3 separate regions of the Homo sapiens genome follow, and regions 2 and 3 are each linked to region 1. Evidence: fine-mapped expression QTL. A gene starts in region 1. Each other region holds a variant in brackets. All regions are shown on one strand. Distances are from middle to middle. Region 1 holds the start of CERNA1 (competing endogenous lncRNA 1 for miR-4707-5p and miR-4767). Region 2 overlaps GNB5 (G protein subunit beta 5). Region 3 overlaps MYO5C (myosin VC).

Region 1 (10,360 bases):
GCAGCGAGCCGAGATCGTGCCACCGCACTCCAGCCTGGGTAACAGAGCAAGACTCTGTCTCAAAAACAAACAAACAAACAAACACACATACCTAGGGTCCCAGGCAAACTGGGATGAGTTGATTACCTTAGCTGATAGCCTAAAGGGGTCTCCCTGACTAGGGCAGAGGCTACTGGGCCACCTATATAGCAACACTAAAATGCAAAAATGTACAGGCATCTAACACATGTTGCTCTGGGGAATAAACCATACCCCTCTGGTGTCAGCCGCATACCCTAATTTGGTACTATAAAACTCATGTGTCTGGCCACACATTCCCAATTCACAGGAAACCATCCTTGGATTCCAAAATGGGAAATATCTGCAGAGGTCATCACGAAGCAGGGGCTGGGAATCTCAGCTGGGCAAGAAACAAGGCCTGTGTGTGTCAGAAACAAATCTGTCAGGCCAGGCACATTAGCTCACGCCTGTAATCCCAGCACTTTGGGAGGCTGAGGCGGGCAGATCACCTGAGGTCAGGAGTTCAAGAACAGCCCGTCCAACATGGTGAAACCCGGTCTCCACTAAAAATACAAAAATTAGCCAGGCATGGTGGCACATGCCTGTAGTCTCAGCTACTTGGGAGGCTGAGGCAGGAGAATCGCTTGAACCTGGGTGGTGGAACTTACAGTGAGCTGAGATTGTGCCACTGGACTCTAGCCTGGGCGACAGAGTGAGACTCCGTCTCAAAAAACAAACAAACAAACAAACAAAAAACGGCCAGGCGCAGTGGGTCACACCTGTAATCCCAGCACTTTGGGAGGCCAAGGTGGACGGATCACAAGGTCAGGAGTTCGAGACCAGCCTGGTTAACACAGTGAAACTCTGTCTCTACTAAAAATACAAAAATTAGCCAGGTGTGATGGCATGTGCCTGTAATCCCAGCTACTCAGGAGGCTGAGGCAGGAGAACTGCTTGAACCCAGGAGGTGGAGGTTGTAGCGAGCTGAGATCATGCCATTGCACTCCAGCCTGGGCAACAGAGCCAGACTCCATCTCAAAAAAAAACAAAACAAAACAAACAAACAAACAAAAACATCTGTTAACTAAGGGGCTGCCAGTCACCATAAGAGATACAGGAAAGTGCATGCTGCCAGCCCCTGCTCTGGGGAGTGAACAGATTCAGTTTATGGTCCTCCCCAGCCTCACCAGACCCTTCCCACCTTCCCCCAGGCTCTCAGCCACTTGCTCAATGGGGAGCCCTGCAAAGAAAGCTGCATCATTCCTAAACTGAATCCTGGCCCAATCACTAACCAGCTGCATGACCCTGAAGGAATTATTCGACTTTGCTAAGCCTGCTCGCTCATCGCACAGATGGGGATGATACCACTTTCCTTCATACAGGGAAAAATGACAGCACTGTTGTTTGCACCTGGCAGGGCTCTAGCTTATACTTCCACAAGTAAAACTCATCAGCATCCTTTCCTCCCTTTCCCACCTGAGTGCCAAGGGACAAACACACTTAGGAAGGAGCTGGGCGAGTCTGGGCTGGGGTAAGGTAAGAGCGGCTGCAGGGTCAACTATGGGACCAAGACAAGCTCAGAAATCATCTCTCGCTCTTCCACCTTCAGCTGTAACTTCCATTAGGAGCTGGCAAGTGGCACGCAAGGTAGGCTCTCTGATAAGAGGGAAAGAGACATTTGTCAAGAACTCTTACCCCAGGTCACTTACCTCTCACACTTCATTTCCCTCCCTCAAGCTGTCTTGTTCTGCCACAAAACATGGCAGGCAGAGTGAGCCCAGTAAAGCAATCAGATCCATCCTCTCTCTCAAAACCCTCCAAGGGTTTCCCAACTCACTGGGAGTAAGAGCCCAAATCTTCACTGCACCCATGGGGTCCTGCATGAGCTCCCAGCATAACCTGCAGCTGGACTCTGCCCTGCATACTCCCCTCCAGACACACCTGCCTCCTCACTCTTCCTCAGATACATCAGATACACCAAACACACCCCCTCCTGGGGCCTCTGCCTAGCTCCTCCTTTTTTTTTTTTTTTTTTTTTTTTGAGACGGAGTCTCGCTCTGTCGCCCAGGCTGGAGTGCAGTGGCAAGATCTCGGCTCACTGCAACCTCCAACTCCCTGGTTTAAGCTATTCTCCTGCCTCAGCCTCCCAAGTAGCTGAGATTACAGGCACCTGCCACCATGCCCAACTAATTTTTGTATTTTTAGTAGAGACGGGGTTTCACCATGTTGGCCAGGATGGTCTCAATCTCCTGACCTCATGATCCACCCGCCTTGGCCTCCCAAAGTGCTGGGATTACAGGCGTGAGCCACCCTGTCGGTCCGAGACCCTGTCTCTTAAAAATAAAGATGAATAAAGAAAAGAATGGCTGAGTGCGGTGGCTCACACCTGTAATCCCAGTACTTTTGGAGGCTCAGGCGGGCAGATCACTTGAGGTCAGGAGTTCGAGACCAGCCTGGCCAACATGGTGAAGCCTACTAAAAATACAAAAATTACTTGGGTGTGGTGGCACATGCCTATAGTCCCAGCTACTTGGGAGGCTGAGGCAGGAGAAACACTTGAACCTGGGAGGTGGAGGTTGCAGTAAGCCAAGACTGTGCCATTGTACTCCAGCCTGGGTGACAGAGGGAGACTCCGTGTCAAAAAAAAAAAAAAAAGAAAAGAAAAGTAGAGAAATGAGAGAACCTGGCTGGGAGATCAGGAGACATGTCAAAGGGGAAGAGGTCAATACAGTGATAAGAACCTTCAAGAAGCAAAGGCTTTATGCGGGGTAGAAGAGAAGTGGTCTGGAAGCTGCAGGGGAATCAAGAGGGACACAACCACATGACTTCTGGTCTTTCCAGCTCACAAATTCTGACATATGCAGGTAGGGATAGACCCTTCCACTGTGGGTCTAAAATCTGGCCCTAGCTTTTGAGGGCACCACACTCTTGGCAGGACAAAAAAAAGTTTCTTCTTTTGGATTGACTACATTTGCCCCCTGAGGTTCCCTTTGAAAAGCTGCATCTCTGCTCTCTGTCTTAAGGCAACTTACAAATTCACAGAAAACCTGAAAATATCCAGGCATGCAGCCTGCACTATTGAATAAGTGAGTTTCTGGAGAACGCCCTCTGCATGAAGCTCAAAACGGGTTTGGCGAAAATAATCTGAAGTGAGCCTGAGCTGGCACTCTGATTGCCTGGGGGGAATCCGGGTCCCAACACTTAGCAGGGGACCTTCGGTAAGTCCTTTAATTCTTTGTGCCTCAGTTTCCTCATCTGTCAAATGGAGAAATTAGATGACCTATGAATACTTTTCACCATGTTGGCCAGGCTGGTCTCAAACTGGGAGAAGGATTTCTGGGAAAACTTTTGCTTTGCTTTCTTGATAGGGAGCAAAGAGAGATTGGTGTCCATATTCCCCCTTCTTCCTGCCTTGGATACAGAAGTGATGTTTGGAGCTGTGGCAATCATATTATAATCATGGGGCAAATGCCACTGCTCTAAGGTGTGGAGAAGAAAGGCAGAAGGAGCCTGGGTCCCTTGGTGGGGGGTGCATGGTGCAGCTGAACAACAGCAGGTGATCATCCACCTTTGCTCTTGTTATGTAAGAAAAGTAACTCTCAATTTGCATAACTACATTATTTGGGGTTTACAGTTAGTGATTGCTGGACAGGATTTCTAAGCTTAGAGTGCCTCCTATTTAAAGAAGACCCCTAGGAAAGCACAGCACACGCTAGATCCAGGTCATCCACTTCTCTTAAGTGATCTTCAGAGATCAAAAGGTAAAGGCCCTAGCACGAACCCCATTTTTCCATTCCACATAGAATGTAAAGGGTGGCATCGATTAGGAATGGCAGGAGAACAACGTCAAGGTGTGCAGGAGGGCACCGTGGGAGGTGCTCAGCAAAGGGGAGATGCCACCCTCAGAGCTCAAAAGTGAGCAGATACAACCACTTCCCCAAGCCTGGCCCCCAGCCCAAGCTCTGCTGAGGAGGAGCCCTCTGACAAAGTAAAGGAACGCTGTTTTGGCCAAGAGCCGCTGAACCTGGCTATTTAATCGCTCACTCATAAAAATCACAGAGCCAGTTCTGAATTACGGTGGTGGTGGTGAAGAATGCAAGTTTAAGATCGCTATGGCTTTTTTATGCCAATCCACCACATCGATCCAAAAGCTTTTTAAACAGCCTTAAACGAACTGAACGGTTGAATTTAGTGAGCTCCTCCGTTTCCCTTCTCTCTCCGTCATCCAGCTCCCCGCCCCAAGGATAGGGGAGAGGTTGGAAAAATGAGCTTTGAAATTGCAGTCTCATAAAAGCAAAACTGAGAAAAGATACAACAGTGATGGAGAAAGCCAGACGGGCATTAAAAAACAAAACAGGAGTCTCTCCTAGGCCGCGCCTACACGGGCTCGCCGCGCTCGCTCGTCACCACCGACACCCCACCCCCTGCCCTCCGCATGGGAGGGGCAAGAACGCGATCCGTTCGCAGCTTCCAGGCAGGTGATGAGGATAGCTAGTCCCGCGGTCCTCCGCTAGCTGGCGGCGGGGGTCGGCCAGGTGCCCGGACCCTCCGAGGGCCCCACCGCCGCGCGTCCCGGGGATCGGGACCGCTACCCGCGCCTCACCTGCGCGCCCGGGCCCCAGGGCCCTGCTCCCGGGCGGTGGCGCGGGCCTGGCTCCCGTCGCAGCCACGACCGCCCCCACCGCCCCCGCCGTCCCCGCCCGGGAAGTGGCGAGCCGGTCCGGCTTGCCCCGCCCGCCTCCCGGCCCGCACTCACGCTCCACATCGTGCAGCTTGGCTCGCTCCTCCTCCAGCTTGCCCTTGAGGCTCTCGGCCTCGCTCTTCAGCGACGCCAGCGTCTCGTTCTCGTGCAGCCCCTCGGTTGCCATCTTCGCGCGGGGACGCAGCGGAGAGGGAAGCGGAGAGCGGGAATGCGCTGAGCCGCGGCGGGCGCCGCTCCAGCAGCCGTCCCCGGCCCCGAGCACCGCCCCGCGGCCCCGCCCTCCGCGATGACGCCAGCAGCTGCGGGCCCGGCTGCTGCGCCTGAGCCCCAAGACCCCGCACCTGGGCGCGCGCTCTGGCGCAGTGCCTGGTGCGATGTCCGCGTCAGCCTCTCTCCTCCGGGAGAGGCAGGGAGTGTGACGCCCATTTTACCAGCGGGCAAACTGTGGCTTAGGGATGCTGGGTGATTTGCCCGAGGACGCACACAGAGGGAAGGGCCAAGCCGGGATTCCAACTCGGGACTCCCCGCTTCTGGGGAGACCGGTGAGGCCCCCGCGACATGGCCCTCCCATCCCCAAGCCTCTCGTGCAGATCTCCGCTCTGTGGGACTTGATTGCGGGCTGCGGGCCCGTGGCTCCTGCAGGCAGAGAGAGGACGGGAGAGGAGACGGCTACGAGGCTTGGCCGCAGGTAGCTACGGTGCTCCCCCAACAAGGAACCGGAAACCCTCTTCGTTTGTTGATCTAAATATACAAAAATAAAACTAGTTGCTGGGTTCTCAGACGGAGTCTCTGCGGCATTAGGAGGCCCACCCTTATTTTCTCTTTTCTTCACGCAGGAATCAGGTCCCTGGCCTGGGGGCGGCAAAAGGAGATGGCGGTGGGTCAAGTGGGCGCGCAGGCTCAGACCTGGGGCTTCTGAGCCCACGCCCAGGCATCTCGGACCTCTCACTTCTGAGGCCACCTCCTGCCCTTTAGAATGAAGGGCTGGCACAGTTCTGCCAGGATGCACGTTTAGCGACTTCTGTCAGACTGAAGCATCCCCTCTCCGCAAGCGCCTGAAGTGTGAGAGGCACTGTTCTAAGTGCTTTAATTTGCACTTGTTTAATCCTCACAGGAGTCAACTTGAATGGGCACACTTATTCCCACTTTACAGAAGAGGAAACTGGGGCACAGAAAGACTGAGTAATTGCTCAGGGGGCATGCTCCAAGAAAGAGGGAGAGACAGGATTTGGACCCAGACAGGCTGGCTCCCTAGTGCTCTGGACTTTGGTGTGGATGATCCAACTCAAGCCTTCTCCTTTTTCCCTCCTATGTGATCTTGCATGCGTTTGTGCAGAGAATGAGAAGGCAGATCAAAGTTACAGATGCTGCGAGAACATCGCCAAGCAGAATCTTGGGTGCTGTCCCCACCTCTCTGTACCTGCTCCCTCCCAGAGAAGCCAGCCTCCACTTGCTGTCCCGGGCCTTCTCTATCTGAGAAAAGTTGAAGGTACTCGATGTTAATCTGTACATAGTTGTTTTGCAGGTTAGAGTCTGGGATCCTCCGTTTCCTTATCTGGAAAAGCTTCTTCATAGGATCTGCTTCATAGGATTGTTATGAGAATTAAGTAAGATGGTGTGGGCCGGGTGCGGTGGTTCACACCTGTAATCCCAACACTTCGGGAGGCCAAGGTGGGTGTATCACCTGAGGTCAGGAGTTCGAAACCAGCCTGGCCAACATGATGAAACCCTCTCTCTACTAAAAATACAAAAATTAGTCGGGCGTGGTGGTACGTGCCTGTAACCTCAGCTACTCAGGAGGCTGAGGCACGAGAATCGCTTGAACCCTGGAATCAGAGGTTGCAGTGAGCCGAGATCGTGCCACTGCACTCCAGCCTGGGCAACAGAGCAAGACTCAAAAAAAACAAAAACAAAAACAAAAACAAAACAAAAAAAGGTAAGATAGTGTGGGTGAAGACTTTAGCAGACTTCTCCGTACATAGCAGATGCTTATTCACTGCTAGTTCTCTTTTCCGTTCCCATCCGTATAATAATAGGTTTACTTGTCGCTGTTCCTTAGTATTTAGATATTTAGCATAGTACTTGCATATGGTAGGTGCTCAGTTAATGCTAGTTTATTAAATGGATGTATAAAAAATATATAAAATATATAAATCTGTATAAACTATGTTAAAAATATAAACATATAACAAACATGTTTATAAATGAATAAATATATAAATACAATTATTAAGTATAAGATAAGAATATATAAAAGCAAAAATATTACACCTGTTTGAGAGTTTGTAAAGCAAAAGGTTAAGAGCACAGGCTCTATCTAGATCTGACTGCCTGGGGGCAAATCCTGGCTCTGCTCTGTGGCCTGAGGGATTTACTTGTGGTGCCTCAGGCTCCTCATCTGTGAATGGGGGACAACACCTCCTTCAGACTCTGTATGGCATTCGGAGAGAGCAGTGCGTGGCACACAGTATGCATCTGTTATTATTACTGAGGCTGCCTGATACGCTTGAGCAGTTCACATGAGGTAATTTAAATGAGACACTGGGTCATGGGGGATTCTTCTCACAAGGGCCATCTCAGGGGGCCCAGGCAAGGCAGCCTCATCTCATCACCTCCTTAGGCTGGCTCTGTTTGGACCGTTGCAGGATGTGTGTGTGGTTCAAGGTCCTCCTGGCTGTGAAGACCTGAGGCACGTGGTACTTCTCACTGGTGTGTGCCCTCTTCTGGGGGTTCTTTGTGTAAAATAAACCTCGAACAGCCTCCAACCTGGAGAGTCAACTATCTAGAGATGAGGCCATCAGACTTTTAATGGTTAGGCAGTTTTCCAAGTACTTTCTTGTATTTTGGTGTTAACTCCCACTGAGGAAGCTGGATATCAGAAAAGTTGAGGTCAGCTACATTCCACAGTGGTTGAGATAAAGGGTCACTCCTATTCACAAAAAGGGCCCAATGGGGACTGTGTCTACATAATCCCAAACAGTTGGATGAAAGGCCAGCTGTCAGTCACTGGATGTCTCTTCAGCTGAATGATGCTGTCTGAATATTTGGGAACCCCCAAGTAGAGAGTAGAGATTGTATTAAAGTAATTGTGGTTTTTGCCATTGCTTTCAATTGAAAGCAATGAGAATTGTTATGAGAATTAAGTAAGATTGTGTGGGCCGGGCGCAGTGGTTCACACCTGTAATCCCAACACTTTGGGAGGCCAAGGTGAGTGTATCACCTGAGGTCAGGAGTTCAAAACCAGCCTGGCCAACATGGTGAAACCCTCTCTCTACTAAAAATACAAAAATTAGCCAGGCATAGTGGTTTGTGCCTGTAACCTCAGCTACTCAGGAGGCTGAGGCACGAGAATCACTTGAACCCTGGAGTCAGAGGTTGCAGTGAGCCGAGATCGTGCCACTGCTTCAATTGAAAGCAATGGCAAAAACCGCAATTACTTTTGCCCCAACCTAATAGTAGCGCTAGCTGGCAACTATTCCCTAGAAAAGTATCTCCAGGCATGGCCCCTGTGCTAGGGAGAACCTGTGTGCCACAGAGGACTCAAAATCTGGGATTCTTGGGCTTATTCCACCTGCAGAGGAAGTTGTTTAAAAAGCAGAAGAGTTAGATTAATAAATAATGGGGGGGGGGTAAGGCCCCCAGAAAGCAGGTTTATTTTTAAGAACTAAATGTCCTCAGTTCTACAATTTGCAGGGCCAAGTTAGAACGTAGACTGTAGAAATATACTACAGGTAGAAGCCCACTACACCTAGGCTGAAGACATATCCAAATTGCTATGCTGTATCAAAGCCTTTTTATGCCACCCTGGGCTGTTTACTTGCTATTTGCTTTAAGGGAATAATTTTTAATGTAATCATGGTCAGGGGTTACAGTGGAATCAGGAGGATAAAAAGTGCCTTTTCTTTTTCAGTTAGATAAAATGTAAAAGTCATCTTTCCTCTCTTTGGTTGTATTATGGATTTTGTTGTTGTTTTTTTAAATGTGTGGGGATTTCCTACTGGGCTTTTCAGGAGGAGTGCTTTACCACTTTTCACCAAGTGGGGGCTCTGCTCAGCTGCACTATTGAGCGCAGCTTTGCAAATTCTCAGAGATAGGACTAATTCTTAGGGCTTCAGTGATGCTGTGGGCATTTTTGCTGCAAGATCTGAAGCCTGTGCACAGCCACCTCTGGTGAGGACTTGATTTTGTGTACTTTGAAAAATTCCAGGATTTGTATTCCATTCCTAGTCTTTGTTGAAGGCTTAGGCCCAAGGAGTACTTCTGAGCTGAATTTTGCTCACTACTGAGGCCCTGTGAGATTCCATCTTCATTAGAGCTGGACCTACACACCACTGGGACCGGTCCTTGGAAAGATGCTCCTAGACTGTTTATTTGCCAGCTTCTCTTTTAGCTTGATTGCCTGCCAAGCAGACTTGTAGAAGTCAGAAGAAAAAAGTATTAGCCCTAAGAAATAATAGAAGCTAAAACATTCATTGAGTACTTTCCTTGCTGGGTACTATTTAAAATAAGTTATCAAATGAAATCATTTGATCATCATAAAACTCTTATGATGTAGGTGCTATTAGCATTCCTATTTGCAGATGGGAAAAACAGGCTTCAGGAGAGAGGTGAGAACCTCCTTGCACACCAATAACTAGGAACATCAATAGGATTTGGACCCAGGCAGTCAGACACCAGAGTCCACACCCTGAACCTCTGTACTATACTGCCTCACCAAGCCCAGGCATACTGAAAAGTGTGTGTTATATAAGCTGATTCTATGGCATCTCATCTGTCACAGGACCCTCGCTTGACTGTTTTAAGACAGATAACTGAATTTTTTTTAAGTGGCACTTACAATTTCTGCACATGTTGAACAGTAGCTGAGTTGTTGAGACTTCTTGAAAACTGGTCTCAGAGCTCGTTGTTTGAAACATTTGTCACATGAGCCAAATACATTAACGAGAAAGGTCTGATCACACATCTTTTACCCAAGATAAAGCTGAAAAAAAGTGAAAAGAAGGGAGGGGGTGTGAGAAAAGCCAATGGTTTTAACTTTCTAAAATCTCTTCTTGCTTGTACCGTGGTAGCTATTCAGACGTCTACATGTGGGATAGAGTATATGCAGTTAATTTATAACCTTTCAACTATTACAACATGCTGGGTCAATACAACTCATTTAATCAGTGAGAAAGCATCAGACAATAGGTTTTCTGAACTTAACACGTTTAACCAGTTTTTTGGCAGCTGGCAGACCTGCGTCAGGCAGGATTGATCCTTGCAGCACAATATCAATTCTGTGGGGTTTCACAATGGAAAACGTTTTTGTAATGGATGCTATAACTTAAAACTTTTAAAAACATTCCTCCCCTCAGGGTGAACTTTTAAAGATAAGGGTCAGCAAATGATGGAGCCTGACCCCAACCAAAGCCAGGGGCCTGAGTAAGTGTGGTGTGGGTTCCGTGCAAGGCAAGCACTCACTTATTAAACATTTGACAGCCAAAGACCCAGGGTCCCTGCCTGTTCACAAGGAAGTCAACAGACAGGCCCAGGCCGCTGCAGGGAGGCAGCACAAGCATCTAGTGGTTACAGGGACAGGCTCTGGCTGCCTGGTCCCGGCCCACCACTGAGGCTAGTTAGCTGACCTCTCTGAAGCTTGGTTTTGCTAATCTGTCAAGT
Region 2 (10,360 bases), 24 kb before region 1:
GGTGGTTTGGGGGCCTTCTGAGATTCCAAAGCACATTGGTTCTTCTGGTCTAATTCTGCCTAAATGGCCACACACAGTGTGTGGGGTGGATTCAGTAAGCCTTTAGCGCAGAAACTGGAGTGGGGCCACACACCTGTATCGTGGGGTCCTCCACACCTGGAGCCCCTGATGGCTGGGGACTGGTTCCTAGCATTGCCCACATCAGCGACCACGTTAGGGGCTTCTTCCACCTCACTGCCTGCCTGTCCCCCATGTGTGCTCTGGAGTCCCTGTGTGTGCCACCCACTGTGTGCTCTGGCGTCTCATTAAACTAAGTGTGGTCTCCTCGGTGAGCACAGATTTATGTGCAGGGGCCTACGTACCCAGAGAGAATGTGCCTCTATCCCCAAGCCTTAATCCCACATGGCTGGGGTGACTACTCTCCTGCATCTAAGCAGGAAGGCTGTTGATGAGTCCAAGTCTGTTCCAGAGGCTTCCTGCTTTCCAGCCTCCTCCCCACACCCACATCCACCTCTTCCTGCTCTGGAGCAGAGAGGGATGGACAGTGTGTGCCCAGCCCTGCTGAAGGTCCTCCCTCCCAACAGCAGTATGTGAGTGACAGAAAACCCAACACAAAGCCTACCTTGTCTGGATTTAAGAAGTCAAAAGGCTAGAGAGCGACATGGATATCCTGATAAGCACCTTATAAGAATAAGCTCTTGAAAAAGACTAGAAAGAAGTGCTCTAAAATAATAATAATGGGCAGGGCAAGGTGGCTCACATCTATAATCTCAGTGCTTTCAGAGGCTGAGGCAGGAGGATCACTCGAGCCCAGGAAGTCAAGGCTGAAGTGAGCTGCACTCCAGCCTGGGTAACAGAGTGAGACCCCATCTCAAGAAAAGAAAAAAGAAAAAGAAAAAAATAATAATGGTTGTGACAGGATGGTGGGAGTAAAAGGTTTTTATTTGTTTGTTTCTTTAATGTGGTAGAATACATAAGTGATAAATTTATTTTGATCTTAAAAAAAAAGCAAGTGCAATGTGACATACTAGATTTGTAGGTAATCTAGGAGAGTAATAACATTTGTCCTATCAAACGCAAAACTGACACAGACGTTACAGTTTGTGGATTATCTAGAGTATATCCAGTTTCACAAGGGTTATAAAAAAAAGCAAACCAACCTGCTTTTGGAAAAACTGAGCACAAGGCAGGGGTTGGGAGAAACCTATGCTGATCATAAAAATAGGATTTATATAATATCTTTTTTTTTTTGGAGAAAAAAAAACAGTCTCGCCCTGTTGCCTAGGCTGGAGTGCAGTGGCATGGTCTCAGCTCACTGCAACCTCCGCCTCCTAGGTTCAAGCGATTCTCCTGCCTCAGCCTTCCGAGTAGCTGGGATTACAGGCTCCCACCACCATGCCCAGCTAATTTTTGTATTTTTTAGTAGACACGAGGTTTCACCATGTTGGCCAGGTTAGTCTTGAACTCCTGACCTCAGGTGATCCATCCGCCTCGGCCTCCCAAAGTGCTGGGATTACAGGCGTGAGCCACCATGCCTGGCTGAATATCTCTCTTTTTTTTTTTTTGAGACAGGGTCTCACTGTGTTGCCCAGGCTGGAGTGCAATGGCATAATCTCAGCTCACTGCAGCCTTGACCTCCTACACCCAAACGATACTCCCACCTCAGCGTCCCAAGTAGCTGGCACTACAGGCACGCACCACCATGCCCAGCTGATTCTGTATTTCTATTTTTATAAAGACGAGGTCTCACCATTTGGTCTCGAACTCCTGGATTCAAGTGATCCTCCTGCCTTGGCCTCCCAAAGTGCTAGGATTATAGGCATGAGCCACTATAACCAGCCTGTAGAATATGTCATGTGACTTCAGTTTATAGCTTTATGTTCAATACATGTTACATAAAAATAGACATCAAAAGTACTAAGCTGTGGGAGCCAGACTCCAAGTGAGTCCCAAATCATTCCAGCCTCTTGATAGTCACACTTTTCTATAGTCTCTTTCCTCTGTGTATCAGGGTTGTTCTGTGTGACCAACAGAATACAACAGGAGCAATGGACTGTCACCTCTGAGGCCAGGTCATGAAATATGGCATGGCCCTGCCTCTGCCCCTTCTTGTGGATCACTCGCTCTGGGAGAGGCCAGCTACCATGTTGTGAGCAGGTCCAATGGTGAGGAACTGAGGCCTCCAGCCAAGAGCCACGTGAACAGGGCACCCTGGAAGTGAGTCTCCACCTTAGTCCAGCTGTCGGCAACCACAGCCCCGACCAACATCTTCACACAACCTCACAAACCACCTGAGCCCGAACCACCCAATGGAGCCACTCCCAGATGCCTGACTCTCAGAAACCATGCGAGATAATTAAGCTGCTAAATTTGGGGGTAATTTTTTGGAGGAATAGATAACTAATAAATAATATATAAAATAAACTGTAAATGATATGATTTTTAAAATTGTATTTTACAAGATCTGTATCTTAACATTGTTCTTTATGACATAAGAATTGCTAAGCTCCTTAAATTGAAAGAAAGTCATTGACAGAATCTTACGCCCTCAATTTGGAAAAAAAAGAAACTATTTAAAAACTGGTTTCATTTACAAATAAGACTTTGAAATTATTTTCAATGGTTCATCATATTGGTTACATATAGTCTACTGTTTCAACTATTACCAACTTTAAATCTACCCAAATTATGAAGTTCTATAATATGTAAGAGAGTTCTTTATGCTAAATCACATCCTTTGGAGAATGAGCAAAGTCACAAAGATCAGAAAAGGGCTTTTGGAAAGGGACAGCTCTCCTCCCCCTTAGCTATAAAATCCAAAACCCGCTCACCTGTTATGCAGCAGGTGTGACATACCTGTGACGAGCTCACGATCCTCCTCTTATCTTTGCACCAGTCCATGCACAGGACTTTGTTCCCGTGGCCTTTGAGGGTCCTTCTGGTCTTCATGACAAACTGCCCCAGGGCCTCCACCCGCTCCGCCACCTGGTGCACTGGAATGACAAGGCCATAGTCAGTCCCCTTGCTAAGGACCAGGTTCTGGGCTTTGGGCTGACACAGCACAGACATATGTTCCGCAGAGGGAGGCGGCCCCATGGGCTTCCTCCATAACAAGCCACAGCTTGATTCTCTGATTCCTTACCATTGCATCCTAGCAGCACTCCTTCTTTTAAGATCAGTAGAGGGTAGAGACAATACTGCCATTCTCTCTTTGTGTTTAAGACCCTACATTTTTCAAAGCAGTTTTATCTATGCATGTTGAGGGATTAACAACAAGACCACCTCATATTCATAAAGCACTACATAAAATTATTCCCTTTAAGGGCCACAGCTCTAAGAGGAGGGCAGGATGGGCAGGAGAGTGAGACCGCTATGCCCATTTAGCAGATGGGGAAACTGAGACTCAGAGAGGTTATCTGGTTAAGACAAGTTCATACAATCAACAGTGAACCAGGCTGGGGCTTCTAGTTCTCCTGCCTACCACTCTCTCATCACAACGAAAACTGACTTTACAAAACTGTTCCAACAGGACTATAAGGTACACCCTGCAGCTCTAGAGCTTGCCGTGTCTAGCTGACCCTGTGTGCCTAGCACTGGCCTGGACATGGCAGGTTCCTCATACACATGGCGCAGGAAAGAATGAACCAGCAAACTGCCAAGCAAGCTGTCTGCAAACTGCACACCTGTGAGTTTACTGAAAAACCTAGTGTCCACAGAAATCAATGCAATGTCCTAAAAGTCTGAATATATGATCCACTCACAGCACCACCTACACCAGAAAGGAGATCCAAAAGTCAATCTCTCAGGGCTGGGACCACAGCTTCTTTCCTGAGGCCAAGGGCAGGCTTTCTAGGGGCTTGCAGAGAAGCTGAGACTGATGAGTCTGAGAGGGACAAGTTTGTAGGAAGTGGCTGGAAAGCCACAAAGACCAGCTGGTCCAGGCCCTTCATCATGCAGGGGAGGACGCCAAGGTCTGCAGGGATCCCATGGCCACTCTCCACTTCCCTCTCTTGTTGGTAGCTATGTGAGAAGGAGAAGCCAGGGCTCTGAACTGTCCATCTACATCTCCTTCCTTGAAACCTCCCAGCTGGCCTTTCTCCAGGTAGGTGAGGAGGGAAGAGGGCATTTTCAGGGGGAAACAGCCTACGCAAACAGACAGAGGAACAGGGTGGGAAGAGGCAAGGCAGCTGCCCCTCATGTCTTCCCAGGGAGCTGCTGAGGCTTGACGGGGCCGTGGCCCATTTCCCTTCAAATGGAAGCCTGTGCCGAGAGGTGCCAACTCTGTGGTCTGAGTCCTATGACAGCAGCGTCCCTTCCTGGGAAATCCTTCCTCCCATCCTTCCCTCCCCAAAATGCTTCAGTGTGTATGTCCTAAAAACAATGAACTCTCTTAAATAACCAAAGTGTAATCATCAAAATTAGAAAATTAATGCTGAAACAACACTAATCTACAGACTTATTGAGATACTGCCTATTGTCCAAATAATAACCTTCATAGCAAAAGAAAATCCACGATCATAGATTGCATTCAGTTGCATGTTTAGCCTCCAGTTATATT[T/C]AGCCTCCAGTTATATTTAGCCTCCAGTTATGTGGCTGCTTCTTGTAATGTGGTTTAATGCTTCCTTGAGATTAGCTTGGGTAAAACACATTTGGCAGGGACACAGAGATGGGGTGCTGAGTTAATGTCACTGCATCCCACCTGGGCACATGAGTCCCACTGCTGGTGGGGTCACCGGGGATCATCTGGTTAAGGGGACACCTGCCAGGTCTCTCCACTGGAGAGTTACCATTTTATCTTTTGTAATGAAAAGTGTCTTGTTAGGGAGGTACTCTGAGGCTATGTAAACATGTTACCCCTCAAACCTCAACGGCCTTATTTTAATTCCACTAATGATTCTGGCCTGAATGAGTGATTGTGATGATGGCTGGCAAGTGGTGATCTTTCTCACTCCATCCTTCCCTCTGCATTCATTAGTCAGCTTTCTAAGGAGGAGTTCTGCCTCCTCTCCCAGTTATTTATTTATTCATTCATTTACATTAGTAGAGACTCATGGGTTCTTACTTTATTCAAGAGGTTGTAATCCATTACTAATACTATTGACTTTGATCTTCAAATTGTCCCAGGTGATGGGGAGCCCCGTCAAGCAGGTTCCCATGACCTTCTGACATGTCCCCCTCATAGTCTGAGCACTTCTCATTCCAAGCTTCCGTTGTTCCTTCCCTGTCCTTGCTCTAAAATCAGCTGTTTCTCCATGGAACTAAAAGTTCCTTTTAGTTGCCTCATTTCCTTGTGATAAAAGAGCAAAGTTGCACATGGGCTAAAAGTCTTTGTGAAAACTCAAACTGTAAAAATACTTGCTAAACTAGGCCAGGCACAGTGGCTCACGCCTGTAATCCCAGCACTTTGGGAGGCCAAGGTAGGTGGACTGCTTGAGCTCAGGAGTCTGAGATCAGCCTGGGCAACATGGTGAAACCGTCTCTACCAAAAATACAAAAACTTGGCTGGATGTGGTGGCACATATCTGTGGTCCCAGTTACTTGGGAGGCCGAGGTGGGAGAACTGCTTGAGCCCGGGGGCAAAGGTCGCAGTGGGCAGAGGTCGCAGTGAGCTGAGATTGCGCCACTGCACTCCAGCCTGGGTGACAGAGCTAGATCTTGTCTAAAAATACAAACAAACAAAACAAAAACCTTGCTAAACTCTAAAGTGCTACATGAATGTTCAATTATTATGCCATTGCTTCTGCTAAAACATTGCATTATTTACTGCCACAAACAGCATATTCGTCTTTTACAAATACGTTCTTTACAAAATACATCGAATGAAGTTTAAAAATAGATTGAATTTTCCAAATTCTTTTTTTTTTTTTTTTGAGACGGAGTCTCGCTCGGTCGCCCAGGCTGGAGTGCAGTGGCGGGATCTCGGCTCACTGCAAGCTCTGCCTCCCGGGTTCACGCCATTCTCCTGCCTCAGCCTCCCAAGTAGCTAGGACTACAGGCGCCCGCCACCACTCCTGGCTAATTTTTTGTATTTTTAGTAGAGATGGGGTTTCACCAAGTTAGACCAGGATGGTCTCAATCTTCTGACCTTGTGATCCGCCAGCCTCGGCCTCCCAAAGTGCTGGGATTACAGGCGTGAGCCACGGCACCCGGCCTGATTCTTATAGGCCTTTTTTTTTTTTTTGAGTCGGAGTCTCACTCTGTCACCCAGGCTGGAGTGCAGTGGTGCCATCTTGGCTCACTGCAACCTCTACCTCCCGGGTTCAAGTGATTCTCCTGCCTCAGCCTCCAGAGTAGTTGGGATTACAGGCATGTACAACCATGCCCAGCTAATTTTTGTATTTTTAGTAAAGACAGGTTTCACCATGTTGGCCAGGATGGTCTCGATCATCTGACCTCGTGATCAACCCACCTCCACCTCCCAAAGTGCTGGGATTACAGGAGTGAGCCACCGCGCCCAGCCATATAGGCCTTTTATATAAGGCTCTATCGGCCCAGAGTTGTGAGCATATTGTATTTAGTATTTTACTTAGAAATTTTACATCAATATTATTGCTGCTTCCCCCAATTCAGCATTAGGATAGCCATAGCTTTTTGATAATTTCCCTTTTAATAAAAAAGATGATTCACCCAACCAAAATAGGGCCCTCCTTACATAATGTGAATTTGAATAGATCCCAACTATTAATTATTTTTTCTCACTACATTTTTTCTTCCCACATGTAGATCACTGCCAACCCACTCCATCCTGTTTCTATCTGCCAAATTTTGCATCCACTGAATTAAAACAAATTTTAAAAATTAAACATTAGGAAGTTAAAAAAAAAAAGACCTGGAAATGAGCTGAATATGTGCTGGGTATTATTTGTGTGAACTTGGTTCAGGACACATGTAGTTTCCCCTTTGCCTTCTGGAGGACCATTCCTCCAGGATTTAATTTTTTTTTTTAATGGTGAATATAACCAGCTGGTTTCTATAATAAGAATTTGCTAGAATATAATGGTAACCTGTTAAGAAATTCCACTAGCTCTAGGAAGACAGGAGTGCTGTCTTGTTTGATCTTCTTCAGAGGCAAAACTGGAGCAAAGCAGTTAAAAATCCAGGCTCTGGATTTGGGGGCTTGGGTCAAAGCCTGGCTCTGTCGCACACCAGCTGCACAACCTCGAGCAAATCATGTACTTTCTCGCCACCTCTCTTCCCCTGTGGGGTTGCGGGGACAACTATTCAAGCCTGGCATAAAGGGAACACTTCATAAGGGTTGGCTATGACATTCTCCAGCATGGCGTACAGTGAGTACCCAGTAATATTTACTGAAGGAATAAATGAAATGCTTAGTATTGATTAAACTTCAATCAACGGTAGCAATCCTAAGCAGCAGTCTTTGGTGGGCGAACAAAACAATGCCTCTTTGCCTTCTTTTTCTGTACCTCTCCCTATCCCTAATCCATCATCCCTACTTCAGCTGTCAAGCAACTCACCAATTTAACAGGGCACGCTCACTAGCACTGGGAGTGGGAGGCACACACAGGGTTTCAGACCTACTTTCTGATCCAAGGAGCTCACCAACCTTTTTTTTTTTTTAAAGTTCCTTTTTTTTCTTTTCCCCCTCCTGGCCCTATCCTGTTCCCTGAGCAACTTGGATTTGGTCTTTACCACGCACAAACCCTTACGCCATTCAGATACAGCTCAAACTCTTTCCTAGTTCATTCCAGTTCAGTCTGTGCCAGCCTCTGGGACCATCCAGGTATATGAGAGTCAGTCCCTGACCTCACTGTAGTTCAGAGTCAAGGGAAGAGATGGAGCCATAATGATGATTTCCATACAACGTGGGACTTGCTAAGCTAGATGTGTGGACACAAGAAGCTTCTGTCCCAGAGGGTGGGGCACTGCACTGGGTCTTTTGGGGTGGTATCTGAGCTCAGTCGAAAGGATAAAAAGGTGAGTCAGATGAGAGGAGGTCCTAGGTGGGTACGCTAAGCTGAGGAAATGGCAAAAGCAAAGGCCCAACAATAATACTGATGTAAAATTTTTACATCAATATTTTTTAGGGGTGGAATAAACAACCTGATTGCAGAGTAAGGGGTAGGTGCAGGCAAGTAATGGCGCTGTACACCCATGACAGAGCTCATTTATCCCACCGTGACAGCAGCCTGCTGTCATCAGAAGAGTGGCATGGTCGGATCTGCCTTCTCATGACTATCTGTGGCTGCAGCGTTGGAGGACAGCGTCGATGGAGACAACACTGGAGGAGGGAAACCAGGGAAGAGACTCCTCTTCTTTGGCAGCCCCCTCTCCAGCGGACACACCATCTGCCGCACCACGCTTCTTTGTGGTCCCTCCAAGGTCAGACTGGAACAGCCTAGAAACTGCTCCCTGTCCCTGGATGTTCTCCTTCCCATGTCCAGGGAGAGGACGCTTGCCTCTGTGGCCTCCCTGCTCAGTTGGGTCCTCTGAAGCTTGAGATGCTGAATATTCTGGATGCCAGTCCAGACCAAGGAATCAGAATCAAAGTCATGGCTGGAACTCAAGAGGAAGTGTAGGCCAGTGAATGTTTGCTGCTTGAATGATGGTTCCAGAATCTCTACTATGTGCCAAGAGCTGTGCCAGATGCTTGGGTACAGAAAAGAGTAAGACAGTCTCTGCTCTTACTGAGCTCACAGTCTGGAGGGGGCAGACAGGTCAGCACCCAGGTAACAACTACAGTGCAGTGCGATGGTGGCTGACAGAGGCTGTCACCCAGGGTCAGGGAGCCAGAGGGGAACAGGGTTGACTCCGCTGGCAGGCGTGGTCATTAGAGGTGATGTCACTGAAGCCTGGTTTGAAGGATGCATAGGAGTTGGGGTGGAAAAGGGTAGGTGGGAAATTAGCTTCTTTTTTTTTTTTTTGAGATGGAGTCTCACTCTGTTGCCTAGGCTGGAGTGCAATGGTGTGATCTTGGCTCACTGTAACCTCTGCCTCCTGGGTTCAAGCGATTCTCCTGTCTCAGCCTCCTGAGTAGCTGGAATTCCAGGCCCATGCCACCACACCTGGCTAATTTTTGTATTTTTAGTAGAGATGGGGTTGCACCATGTTGGCCAGGCCGGTCTCGAACTCCTGACCTCAGGAGATCCACCCGCCTCTGCCTCCCAAAGTGTTGGGATTACAGGCATGAGCCACTGCGCCTGGCCAGGAAATTAGCTTCTTAATGTCTACTTTAGTCGCTGTTTTTTAGGAAAATGGCAGACAATGACCCAATCCATGGGAGTGTTGTGAGGTTCAACTGAGAAGGCAAATTAAAGTGCCTAACAGGCAGCTGGCAGGCCAGGAGTGGCAAATCTAGAGTTGGTGTACTAGGAGCTGCGAACTAGAAGACTGGAAACAACATGACCCGGAGAGCAACGGGGCTTTTGAAATGGAGGAGCCATGAAAACTAGAGATCATGTTTAGAATAGCAGAGAAGGGGTGAATGAAAAGAGGGGTTGTGAATGGAGAGATGGTTTTGTCTTGATTGCCTTTTATAGAATTATAGAAGTAAATGCATATTCATTAAAAATAATCATAAAATAAAAATATATGGTCACTTACAATTCTGCTTAGCCTGACCATTCTTATCATTTGGTGTGTACCCTTCCAGCCTTTCCTCCACATATGTGCACACACATATATATGTGTATAAGCAGACAACATGCCACATAAAATTTGGGGGACTACAGGCATGGGATTACAGGTGTGAGCTGCCACACCCAGCCTATCATTTTTAATGACTCCATAACATTCCACTGTATATACATACTATAATCTCTGAATCTCCTACTGGTGGACACTTACTTTGTCCCAGGGCTACCATGATACCCTTGTACTGTATTATCTCCTTAGATAAATTTCAATTCGTGGAATTACTGAGTCAAAGGGAAAGCATATTTTTTAAGGCTTTTGATGTATGTTACCAATATCCACCATTGATTGTGTGTCTCCTGGGTGACGGGCACTGGGCTGAGTGCTTTACACAACAGCCTGAGGACAAAGGCTTTATCTCCATTTCTACAGATGAGGAGCCTGGAGCTCAGAGAGGCTAAGGACCTCATGCACACATACTTGGATCCCTAAGAACATTTACATACCTTCAATAATGGGAGAATCTGTGGGCGGGTAGCTATCATTATTTAGAAAATCAAGGAGTAGGTGAGGCACTGACAATGGCTTCTTAGTCCAGGAGACATCCTAACTTTGGATCCTCCATGCCTCTTTCTTTTTTTGAGACAGAGTCTCGCTCTGTTGCCCAGGCTGGAGTGCAGTGGCGTGATCTTGGCTCACTGCAACCTCCACCTTCCAGGTTCAAGCAATTCTCATGCCTCAGCCTCTCAAGCAGCTGGGATTACAGGCA
Region 3 (10,360 bases), 24 kb after region 1:
AATAGTAGCAGGTGTATTGGGGAAGATGACCAGAATTTGAAGTCCTTCCAAGTCAAAAGTGAGATCATCACTTTTCCCCTCTGCTATTCACTGGCCTCTACTCGCCACAGGTTGAAACTCAGAGGTGGGCATCAATGCCAACAAAGAGCTCCAGGGGAGCTCTCTGATTCTAGCTCAAGGAGCTGAAAAGGGGCCTCCTAATGCTCAATGCCCTACCTTTTCCCTCTCCTTTTTCTCTATTCTCTCATGCTCAAGTTCCAATCCCATGTCGACAGCAGTGGTGGCGAAGGAGGCCAGAAGGAACCTAAAACTCGAAGAGAAGGGAAACTTCCCTTCCAATTGGAGGATCTGTGGTTCAAGGTTCTCTCTTTGCCCTCACCATTTGGCCCCAGATAGAGACATCTGCAGTAAGTACACTGCAGAGCAAATTAAGGAAAGCTCCAGTTTTCTAGCTGAAGCACCAAAAAGGGGGCAGAAAGTAATAGGAATGCCACAGAAAGGGAGGAGCCTGGGAAAGTTGGGAAAAGCAGTTTGTTAAGTTCTTTATTAACTCCTGGGTTTATCCCTGAGCCCACGCATGAATCTGACCCTAAACAGCATATACAGAATTTAAGAACTGAACTATGAAACATACCATTACCCAAGTTCCAAGCTGGCCACCATTTTTCACACATATGAAACGGACCCAAAGAGCACCACAAAACCCTTACACATGGAAATGGCATGAGAACCACAAAGCATAGAGGGTGGTCAGAACTTGCAGTCTGACCCAAGTGCATTGTCCGCCTGATGAAAATATTGACATTCTCCATATGATTTAAAGACTTAGAGTCTTGGCCAGGGATGGTGGCTCACACCTGTAATCCCAGCACTTTGGGAGGCTGAGGCGAGTGGATCACTTGAGATCAGGAGTTCGAGACCAGCTTGGCCAACATGGTGAAACCCCGTCTCTACTAAAAATGTAAAAATTAGCCAGATATGGTAGTGGGTGCTTGTAATCCCAGCTACTTGGGAGGCTGAGGCACGAGAATCGCTTGAACCCAGGCAGAGGTTGCAGTGAGCCAAGATTGTGCTGCTGCACTCAAGCTTGGGTAACTAAATAATAATAATAATAATAATAAAAACATAAACTAAAAAATGAAGACCTAGAGTCTCATAATACAGTATTTAAAAATATCCAATATACAATTCAAAATTGGCATATGAAGAACCAGAAAGATCTCAACTCACATTAAACAAAACAACTAATAGAAGTCAACACTGAGATGACACAGATATTCAAATTATCTGACCAAGACTTTAAAGAAGTTATCATAAAAATGCTCTAAAAAGTAAAGCCAAACTCTCTTGTAATGAATCAAAAGATATAAAGTCTCAGAAAAGAAACAGAAAATATAAAGAAAAACCAAATGGAAATTTTAGAATTGAAAAATACAATAATAGAAATAAAAGAACTCACTGAATGGGCTTACTAGCAGAATAGAGATGACAGAGGAGAGTCAGTGAACTTGAAAGGATTAACAGAGATTATCCAATCTGAACAGCACAGAAGAAAAGAACTAAGAAAAAGGAGCAGAATTTTATGGACCTGTGGGACAATAACAAAAAGTCTTTAACAGCTGGTTCACTGAAGTTCTGGAAAGAGAAGACAAAGAGTATGATGCAGACAAAATATCTGAAAAAACAGTGGCTGAAAATGTACCAAATTTGGTGAATGGCCAGATTCAAGAAGCTCAGGAAATTCCAAACAGGCTAAACCAAAGAAATCCACACCCAGACACATCACAAACTATGGAAAACTAAAGACAAAGAAAAAAAAATCTTAAAAGTAATCAGCGAAAAATTATGCATTATTTATGGGGAATAATTCAAATGACTATGGATTTCTTATCTGAAACCACAGTAGCTAGAAAAAAGTAAAACATTTTTAAAGTGGTGAAAGAAAACAACTGTCAATCCAGAATTCTACATCCTACAAACATACCCTTTAGGAATAAAGGTAAAGTGAAGACATTTTCAACTGAAAGAAAACTAATAATTTATTGCCAACAAAACTGCTCTAAAAGGAATACTAAAATACTTTCTTCAGGCAGAAGGAAAATTATATCAAAATGAGACTTGGAAAAAAATGAGACTTGGAACATTAGGAATGAAGAAACAACAGAAATGGTAAATACCTGGTTGAGTATAATAGACTATTCTTCTCTTATTGAGTTCTTTAAAATATGTTTGATGGTTGAAAACTAAAATTATAATATTGTATGGTACAGTTTTTGATGTATGTAGATCTAATATATAAGACCACTGCAACATAAAGTAGGGAGGCTAAAGGGGCCTACATGATGGTAAGATTTCTGCATTCCACTTGATGTGGTAAGATATTGATTCTAAATAGACTGTGAAAAGTTAAGTATATGTACTGGAATCCCTAGAGCAACAACTGAGAAAAAAGATCAAAGGGATAATACTAAAAAAAAAAAAAAAAATAGATAATTTAGAAAGGGATACTAAAAAATTTCAAATAACCCAAAAGAAGCAGATAAAGAAAATGGAGAAATGAAAACCAGAAGCAACAAGCAGAAATTAATAAAATGGTAATCCTAAATATAAATATTATATTACATTAAAATGATCTAAACGTCCCCATTTGGAAGCATAGATTCCAGCCTGAGCAACATAGTGAGACTCCGTTTCTACAAAAATGGCATATGCCTGTAGGAGTTCAAGACCAGCCTGGCCAACATGGTGAAACCCCGTCTCTATTAAAAATACAAAAATTAGCCGGGCATGGTGGCGCATGCCTGTAGCCACAGCTACTCAGGAGGCTGCGGCAGAAGAATTGTTTGAACCCGGGAGGCGAAGGTTGCAGTGAGCCAAGATCGTGCCACTGTACTCCAGCCTGGGTGACAGAGTGAGACCCCCATCTCAAAAAAGAAAAAGAAAAGGATGGCCACTTCCACCTGGTGGAAGGGAAAAAGTACTGGGTACCTGGGGGGCAGGTGTTCGCCTGTCCTCAAAGAAGTTGTTCTAAGACCTGGAGTCATGTGTCTCCCTCATGATCCTTTTCATTCATGTCTCTACTCAGTCTTGGGGGATCCACTGAGGGAGTGAGAACTGAGTTTAGCAAAGGCTCTGATGTGGCTTTACTTTAGGGCTGAAATCTACTACAGAGGACTACAGGATCTGCTTGGAGCTTGTGAAATAAACATAACTCATTTCTCAATGAAGACATAAAGATCTGCAAAGACTAGTCCTTCTGAATACCCCTTTCTATCTGAAAACCATGCCCTGCTGTCATGAGAATTTGTGGGAATGGTCTATGGGGATTGACTCCAACTCCAAAGTTTCACTAATGCTAAAAAGGTGTAAGGGATGCCTCTCACATGTATTTTTTGACTTAAGATACTCAATTTTTAAAAAATTTTTCTGGGTACATAGTAGGTATATATATTTATGGGGTACATGAAATTTTTTTTTGTTTTTTTTTTGAGACGGAGTTTTGCTTTGTCCCCCAGGCTGGAGTGCTGAGGCGCGATCTTGGCTCACTGCAACGTCTGCCTCCCCAGTTCTAGTGATTCTCTTGTCTCAGCCTCATGAGTAGCTGAGATTACAGGTGTGCACCACCAGGCCTGGCTAATTTTTTTGTATTTTTAGTACAGACAGAGGTTTCACCATGTTGCTCAGGCTGGTCTCAAACTCCTGACCCCAAATGATCCGCCCACCTCGACCTCCCAAAGTCCTGGGATTACAGGTGTGAGCCACTGTGCCTGGCCCATGAAATGTTTTGATACAGGCATGCAATGTGAAATAAGCACATCAAGGAGAATAGGGTATCCATTTCCTCAAGCATTTATTGAGTTACAAACAATCCATTACACTCCAAGTTATTTTATCTTTTTTATTATTTATTTTTTTGAGGCAGAGTCTTGCTCTGTCGCCCAGGTTGGAGTGCAATGGTGTGATCTTGGCTCACTGCAACCTCTGCCTCGGGTTCAAGCGATTCTCCTGCCTCGGCCTCCCGAGTAGCTGGGATTACAGGCATGTGCCACAACGCCCAGCTAATTTTTGTATTTTTAGTAAAGACAGGGTTTTGCCATGTTGGCCAGGCTGGTCTCAAACTCCTGACCTCAGGTGATCCACCCACCTCGGCCTCCCAAAATGCTGGGATTACAGGCATGAGCCACCCCGCCCGGCCTCTAAGTTATTTAAAAATACACAATTAAGTTATTATTGACTATAGTCACCCTGTTGTGCTATCAAATAGTAGGTCTTATTCATTCTTTCTCTCTTTTTTTTGTACCCATTAACCATTTCCACCTCTACTCAGCCCCCCACTACTCTTCCCAGCCTCTGGTAACCATCCTTCTACTCTCCATCTTTATGAATTCAATTGTTTTAATTTCTAGCTCCCACAAATAAGTGAGAACATCTGATGTTTGTCTTTCTATGCCTGGCTTATTTCACTTAGCATAATGATAGATACTTTCTTTGTCACCTTCCCTTACGTCATTACCATCATCACTACCCCAGGTTCTCATAACAGATACAGGTATCAAATTTCTGCACACACTATAAGAAACGTAAATATCCTATATTATGTGTTTTCCAATCACTTGATCAGTGTTAATTCAAATAGTGGCTCAGGGTCCATGGTGTCTCAATTAAGAGATAGTAGACACACCTCAAAACTAGATTCCCAAGTCTTCAGGATGAACTCCAAATGCCTTAGCCTGGTATTCCAGACCCTCCCAGTGTGGATCCAACCTAGCTCTTTACCTTGGTCCTGCTGCTCCCCACACCAGCCTC[C/T]GCTTACTCCACATGCAGCCTGAGCAGAGGTCCTCACTCACTCCCCGCAATGCCTCTGACCGTTTCTCCTGCTTGGAACGTTCTTCTCCGTTTCCTTTATCACTCAAGGCACAACTCTCTGGCTTCCCCAACTGTTCCGTCTGCAATGTCTCTCCTCTCTGATACATTTCCTGCACCACTTGTTTGTGATTTAATCATAGTTGCCTTTCATTATTATTTAGCTATTCTGAGCTTCTCAAAGGCAGGGATCATATCGACTTTTCCTTGTTTCCTGTGTTCTCCCCCTGGCAGTGCTATTCAGAGAAGGTAGTCACTACTGGTTGAGTGCATGACCACCCTAGAGGGCCAGAATTTAAGATGAACATCTACTGGTTCTGGGTTAAAGCGGCTAGGCCAGTCCATCTAGTTGGCAGGGTGTGGCGTGAGGGGAGTAGGCCCTGGGCGCCAGCATCCCGGGGCTCCTAGGGTGACTCGAATATCCCTACAGCAGTAGGGCCTAAACAGGGGTTTGACGCCACAGCAGGGAGGGTCAGGCGCGTGGGGCCTCGGACTTCAAGAGCATCCTTTCTGCAGGCCTCTCCGCGTGAGCGGAGGTTTCTGGGTTTTACCTGATCTGCATCCCTTTTCTGCAGGAGCACATGTCCTTGCGCAGGAAGAGGCTGTTCAGCGTGACCGCCCCGATCAAGAAGAAGAGCTGCTTCACCGCCTGCCTCACAAGCTCGGGGTCCAGGCCGTTCTGGCACATGGTGGTGTAAAAGTAGCTCAGCTGTTGCAGGACGGAGGTCATGGTGTAGCCGTCCGTGTCGTCTATGCTAGAGGAGCGCTTCCGGAAGCCTGTGGGCTTCAGGCCGGAAATGCCCTGCAGGCTCTCATACTCCAGCATTCCCGGAACTGCGGAGAGACAGGGAGGCTGTGCTGACACGCCAGGAGACACACGCGGAACGTTCCCGACGCTCTTCGGTTTGTTTCAGGAGATGGGACATTTTTCTACAAGAGTCAGTGGATGTACTTATGATAGAGAAAGCAAAAGAATCAAGGGTTTGGGACACCAGGGTGTGTGTCAGGGTTAGGGATGGACGGCTGTTTCCAGCGGGGCTGCAGCTCCTCTTGTAGGTTTGAAGCAGCACGTTTTTCAGCTTCACAGGAAAGAAAGCTGCTTAGCATGACAAATCATGGCCTGGGCATTAAAGCCTAAAGTATTTAAATTTCAGGAAATTAAGGAAAGTATACAAGAATTCGAATGGGGCTTTAGGATTTCAAAAATACTTGGCTACGCCAAGAAGTAGAAGTACCACATAAATAGCAGTAGTAGAAGTTTCCCCAAGTTTTTTCCTTCAGGATAAATCATCCTTATATAAAGAAAACTACCAACAGCGTACTATTATTTATGGAATCATTATAAGCAAGCAAAGAATTAAAAGGCAGATATCTACATGATTATATTTCCTTGGCTTTTTAAACAATGTTACACATAATCACACATTACACATACCAAGTTTATGTTTTAAAAAGTCTTAATGTTACTATAAATATTTTTTGGTCATCCATTCTCTTCTTACCTATTATCGGTTGGATATTCTTTTCCATTATGATAATAAATTGATGATATATTCGTATAGCCACATCACTGAGAATCTGTCTGTATTCTGAAAGGTCAAAATTGTTCAAGCAATTCTTATTCTGCTGTGGACTATTATGCTTCATGAATTCCTAAAAGTAATTTTAAACATAAAATATTAGAATAATACAAACATGTAGGAAATTAATAATCAGCTACTATAACTCTTTTACCTTAAAACTTAATGTCTGATTTATATCAAATGAGTTCATGATGCTTGGGGTAGCATGTACCTTCTATAAGAAAAAAATTGCACTGATTTCCTGTATGATCACAGTCTATCACACTGTCATTGTCCCACCCACTTCCCTACAAACATTGTCCCTGGAACCTATAGACTAAATGGAAAAGCTCGTAGAAGGCCCATGGAAGCGCATAGGAAAATGAAACAAAACTGCAGAGCATTCAAGGAAACAAACTGCTATGAAGAGGTAAGTGGATACAATAAATGAGATTCATAACCTTATAATTTACAGGGTACAAAGTTGAAATATTTTAAAGTGTGTGTTATGGATTTTATGTGTCTTCCTAAAAATCATACATTGAAGCCCTAACCCCCTAGTGTGGCTGTATTTGGAGATGGGGCCTTTAGGGAGGTAATGAGGTTAAATGAGGTCATGAGGATAGGGCCGTGATCTAATAATAAGATTGATGTCCTTATAAGAAGAGACACCAGAGAGAGCTTGCCCTCTCTCTCCCTCTTCCTGACCCATGCACCCAGGAAAGGTCCTGTGAGGACACAGGGATGGAGAAAGTGGCTGTCAGCAAGCCAGGAAGAGAGCCCTCACCAGGAAGTGACCATGCTGGCACCCTGATCTCAGATGTTTAGCCTCCAGAACTGTGAGGAAACAAATCTCTTGTTTAAGCCACCCAGCCTGCGGTATTTTGTTATAGTAGCCTGAGTGAACTAATGGAATATGTTTAACATGTTCAAAGAGACTAAAGAAAAAGAAAAAATTAAGAATAGAACATTATAGGGCTGGGCGTGGTGGCTTACGCCTGTAATCCAGCACTTTGCGAGGCCGAGGCAGGCGGATCACTTGAAGTCAGGAGTTCAAGACCAGCCTGGCCAACATGGTGAAACCCCATCTCTATTAAAAATACAAAAATTAACCGGGCATGGTGGCGCATGCCTGTAGCCACAGCTACTCAGGAGGCTGAGGCAGGAGAATTGCTTGAACCTGGGAAGCAAAGGTTGCAGTGAGCCAAGATCGTGCCACTGTACTCCAGCCTGGGTGACAGAGTGAGACCCCCATCTCAAAAAAGAAAAAGAAAAAAAAAAAAGAACAGGACATTGTGGTAAGAGACAGAGGTGAAAAGGAACAAGAGAAATTTTAGAAATAAAAATATGGTAACTGAAAAAGCAGTCAGACAGGGAAAAGAATATTCTATACATGGCTGAAGGGGGCAAAGAAAGGATCATAAAACAGTGCTGAATAAAACATTCTTCCACTGATGTCTCACAGATGCCAGTTTGTTGTAAACGGACTAGTCTGTGCCTCCTCCTGTTTTGGTATTCCTTTTAGTCAGAGGTTGGATTTTCTTTACTTCTCCTTTTGTTCTATAGTACTAGACAGATTGCTGTTATATTTTATTTTAACTTCCTTCCATTGGGACAACTGGTTATCTATATGGAAGAGGATATTAGATCATTACCTTACATACCAATTTTGGATAGGTAAAAACATAATTAATTGTGAACTCTAAATATGAACTACAAAAGTTTAGAAGAGGATCTTCATGATCTCAGGGCAGGGAAGAATTTCTTAAGACACAAATCATAAAAGAATAGGATTGACAGATTTAAGCATATCAAAATTCAAAAACTGTGTGACAAGGGACTTCATAAGGAAAATTAGAAGCTAAGCTACAGTCTATCCATATGATATAAAGACCTCCTACAAATCAGTAACAAAAAAACCAACCCTAAGAAAAAGAAAGGAAGGATGTGACTAGGCAATTCAAAAGGAAACCCAAATGACCAATAAACATATAAAATTATGCTTGACTTCACTAGTGACCAAATAAATGCAATTTAAGTCAACAAGATATAATTTTATACCCTGACACTGGTAAAGGATAAAAATGTCTGTCAATACCAAGTGTTGGTGAAGGTATGAGACACTGGAAACATCATACACTGCTGGTGGGGCTGTGCAATGGTACAGCCATTTTGGAGAGCACTGAAAACCCTGAAAGCCACTTTGTTATTTTAGTTCAATGAAATTTTTCTCTGTGAGTACTTGAAGGTGGAGAACTCTTTCATGACATCAGCCTCCTGGAAGCAGAGTCGGAATGGCAAAGGAAACATATTTATAGATTATGGAGGAACAGTCAGGGTCCTGTAGAGAGAACAGCTGTGAAGAAACAGGCATTTTAAACCAAAGCCTGTATTTTAGAGTCATAATGCTAAACGTCTTACAGCCAGAAGGAAACTTAAAAGTCATCTTATCTACCTATTGATTTAAAAGTAATGGAGACCTAGGAGGCCTAGTACCATGCCCAAAATCTAAGCTGCTTCCAGAAGTCTCCTGCCTGTGGTGTATGCCCAAGAGTCCAACAGATAATGTGCTGTTGGCCTCCTGGTGGAGAGGATAGAGGCTCTATTGAGCTCTGGCTCAGGAGGAGGTTATAGACTGGCTGTCAGCACAAAACAACAAGCAGGTGGGCGCCCCCTACCTCTTCTCCGCTGTACTGCTTCAGGCAATTGAGAAAATGACAAGTGTTGGAAAGCCAAAAGGACAGCATTTCAAAGTCTTCTAAATGTTCCTTAGGAAAATAAGAAAAGACAAAATTGGTCTTGATGATTACTTGTACCTCTGAGCATTTACCTGTTTGGTTATTTGTAGCTTTTGACCAAAATTAGTTTTTCTTTTATTCACTAAAGCCTTTATCCAATTCATATTATACTTATAAGAACTTATATTTATTTAATAGGTCACAGTTTGTAACATGTTTCTGTACAGGTTGTGTCACTCATTATGAAGTGTGAAGTGGGTCCTGAAGGAATGCATGAGAAATGCAAGTTTCACTTCTTGCTCTCCTAAGTTCACACTCTCACTGGGAAGATAGAACAGAGTTTTAGTAGGTGGTCAAGAGCCCATACGATGGCTGTAGACTGTGCTACCAAAGCTCAGAGGACGAGGAGAGAGGATGGGGAGGCAGAGCAGCCAGGGAAACCTCAGAGAGGAAGGAGGTCTAGCCTTTGAGGGAAATGGGTGGAGAGACAAGAGCTCAGGACTAGGACTGTTGGGGAGAAGGCCTCCACTTACAGGGCAGGAAGAAGAGGAACAAGCAGTGAAGGCAGAGCTACAGTGATCAGAGGGGAAAACAGAGAAAATCCTGGGATTTAAAAGACAAGGGAGGAAGCTTTCAAGGAGATGGTGCTAATGCTTTGGTCAATTTAGAGAGAATAAAAAGTAAAGAAACACCACTGGTTTTAGTAAGAGGAGTTACTGGTGATCTCTCTGTAGAGTGATGGGTTAGAAGCCAGATTGCAAGGAGTGACAAAGAGAATTGGTGGAGAACACTAGTTTAAGCACTTTGGCAGTCCGGGGTGGAGGGAAAGGAATAGTGGCTGAAGAGGGTATATGGGCACATTGCTGTAACTGCTGTGTGCTGGAGGTGGGGAGAGGCAGGTCCTGGGCACATGCAAAGGCAGAGGGAGGGGGACACAGAGAAGTTGAGACTGAAGATGCTGGTGAGAAAGGGGTCTTATAGTCCTCATACCACACATCTCTTGATTTATGAATATTTGGCGAAACATTCCAGAGCATCAAGGGGAAGCAAATACTGTGTGTCCTGGGCTGGAACACAATGCCAGCTTGTCTTAAGAAAACCCAATTTATGCAAATATGGACAGGGAAAACATCAATTTATGGGAGCCCCTTCCAAAAACACTGTGGTGGCTCCTGTGAAGATGGTGACTATAAAGTA

Evidence for each region. PIP is the estimated chance that this variant, and not a neighbour inherited with it, causes the effect.
Region 2: its variant is fine-mapped to the expression of CERNA1 in whole blood (INTERVAL, PIP 0.90).
Region 3: its variant is fine-mapped to the expression of CERNA1 in blood mononuclear cells (TOPMed, PIP 0.95).

Annotation. Positions count from the first base shown.
Region 1 is chr15:52,175,012-52,185,371 of GRCh38, forward strand. CERNA1 (competing endogenous lncRNA 1 for miR-4707-5p and miR-4767) reads left to right here and starts at 5,015. Exons shown (of 3, transcript NR_102751.1): 1 at 5,015-5,390; 2 at 6,039-6,191. GNB5 (G protein subunit beta 5) reads right to left here. Exons shown (of 13, transcript NM_016194.4): 2 at 9,540-9,683; 3 at 4,757-4,868. The coding sequence starts at 9,665. RefSeq lists a silencer at 4,426-5,085 and enhancers at 5,131-5,632, 5,456-5,545, 9,394-9,563.
Region 2 is chr15:52,151,084-52,161,443 of GRCh38, forward strand. GNB5 (G protein subunit beta 5) reads right to left here. Exons shown (of 13, transcript NM_016194.4): 4 at 2,857-2,993. Among named protein-coding and RNA genes, the nearest start is that of CERNA1, 24 kb to the right of the region's middle. The variant T/C (reference allele first, on the strand shown) is at 4,559.
Region 3 is chr15:52,199,451-52,209,810 of GRCh38, forward strand. MYO5C (myosin VC) reads right to left here. Exons shown (of 41, transcript NM_018728.4): 36 at 9,104-9,193; 37 at 6,366-6,516; 38 at 5,415-5,697. CERNA1 (competing endogenous lncRNA 1 for miR-4707-5p and miR-4767) reads left to right here. Exons shown (of 3, transcript NR_102751.1): 3 at 5,439-6,429. Among named protein-coding and RNA genes, the nearest start is that of GNB5, 13 kb to the left of the region's middle. The variant C/T (reference allele first, on the strand shown) is at 4,807.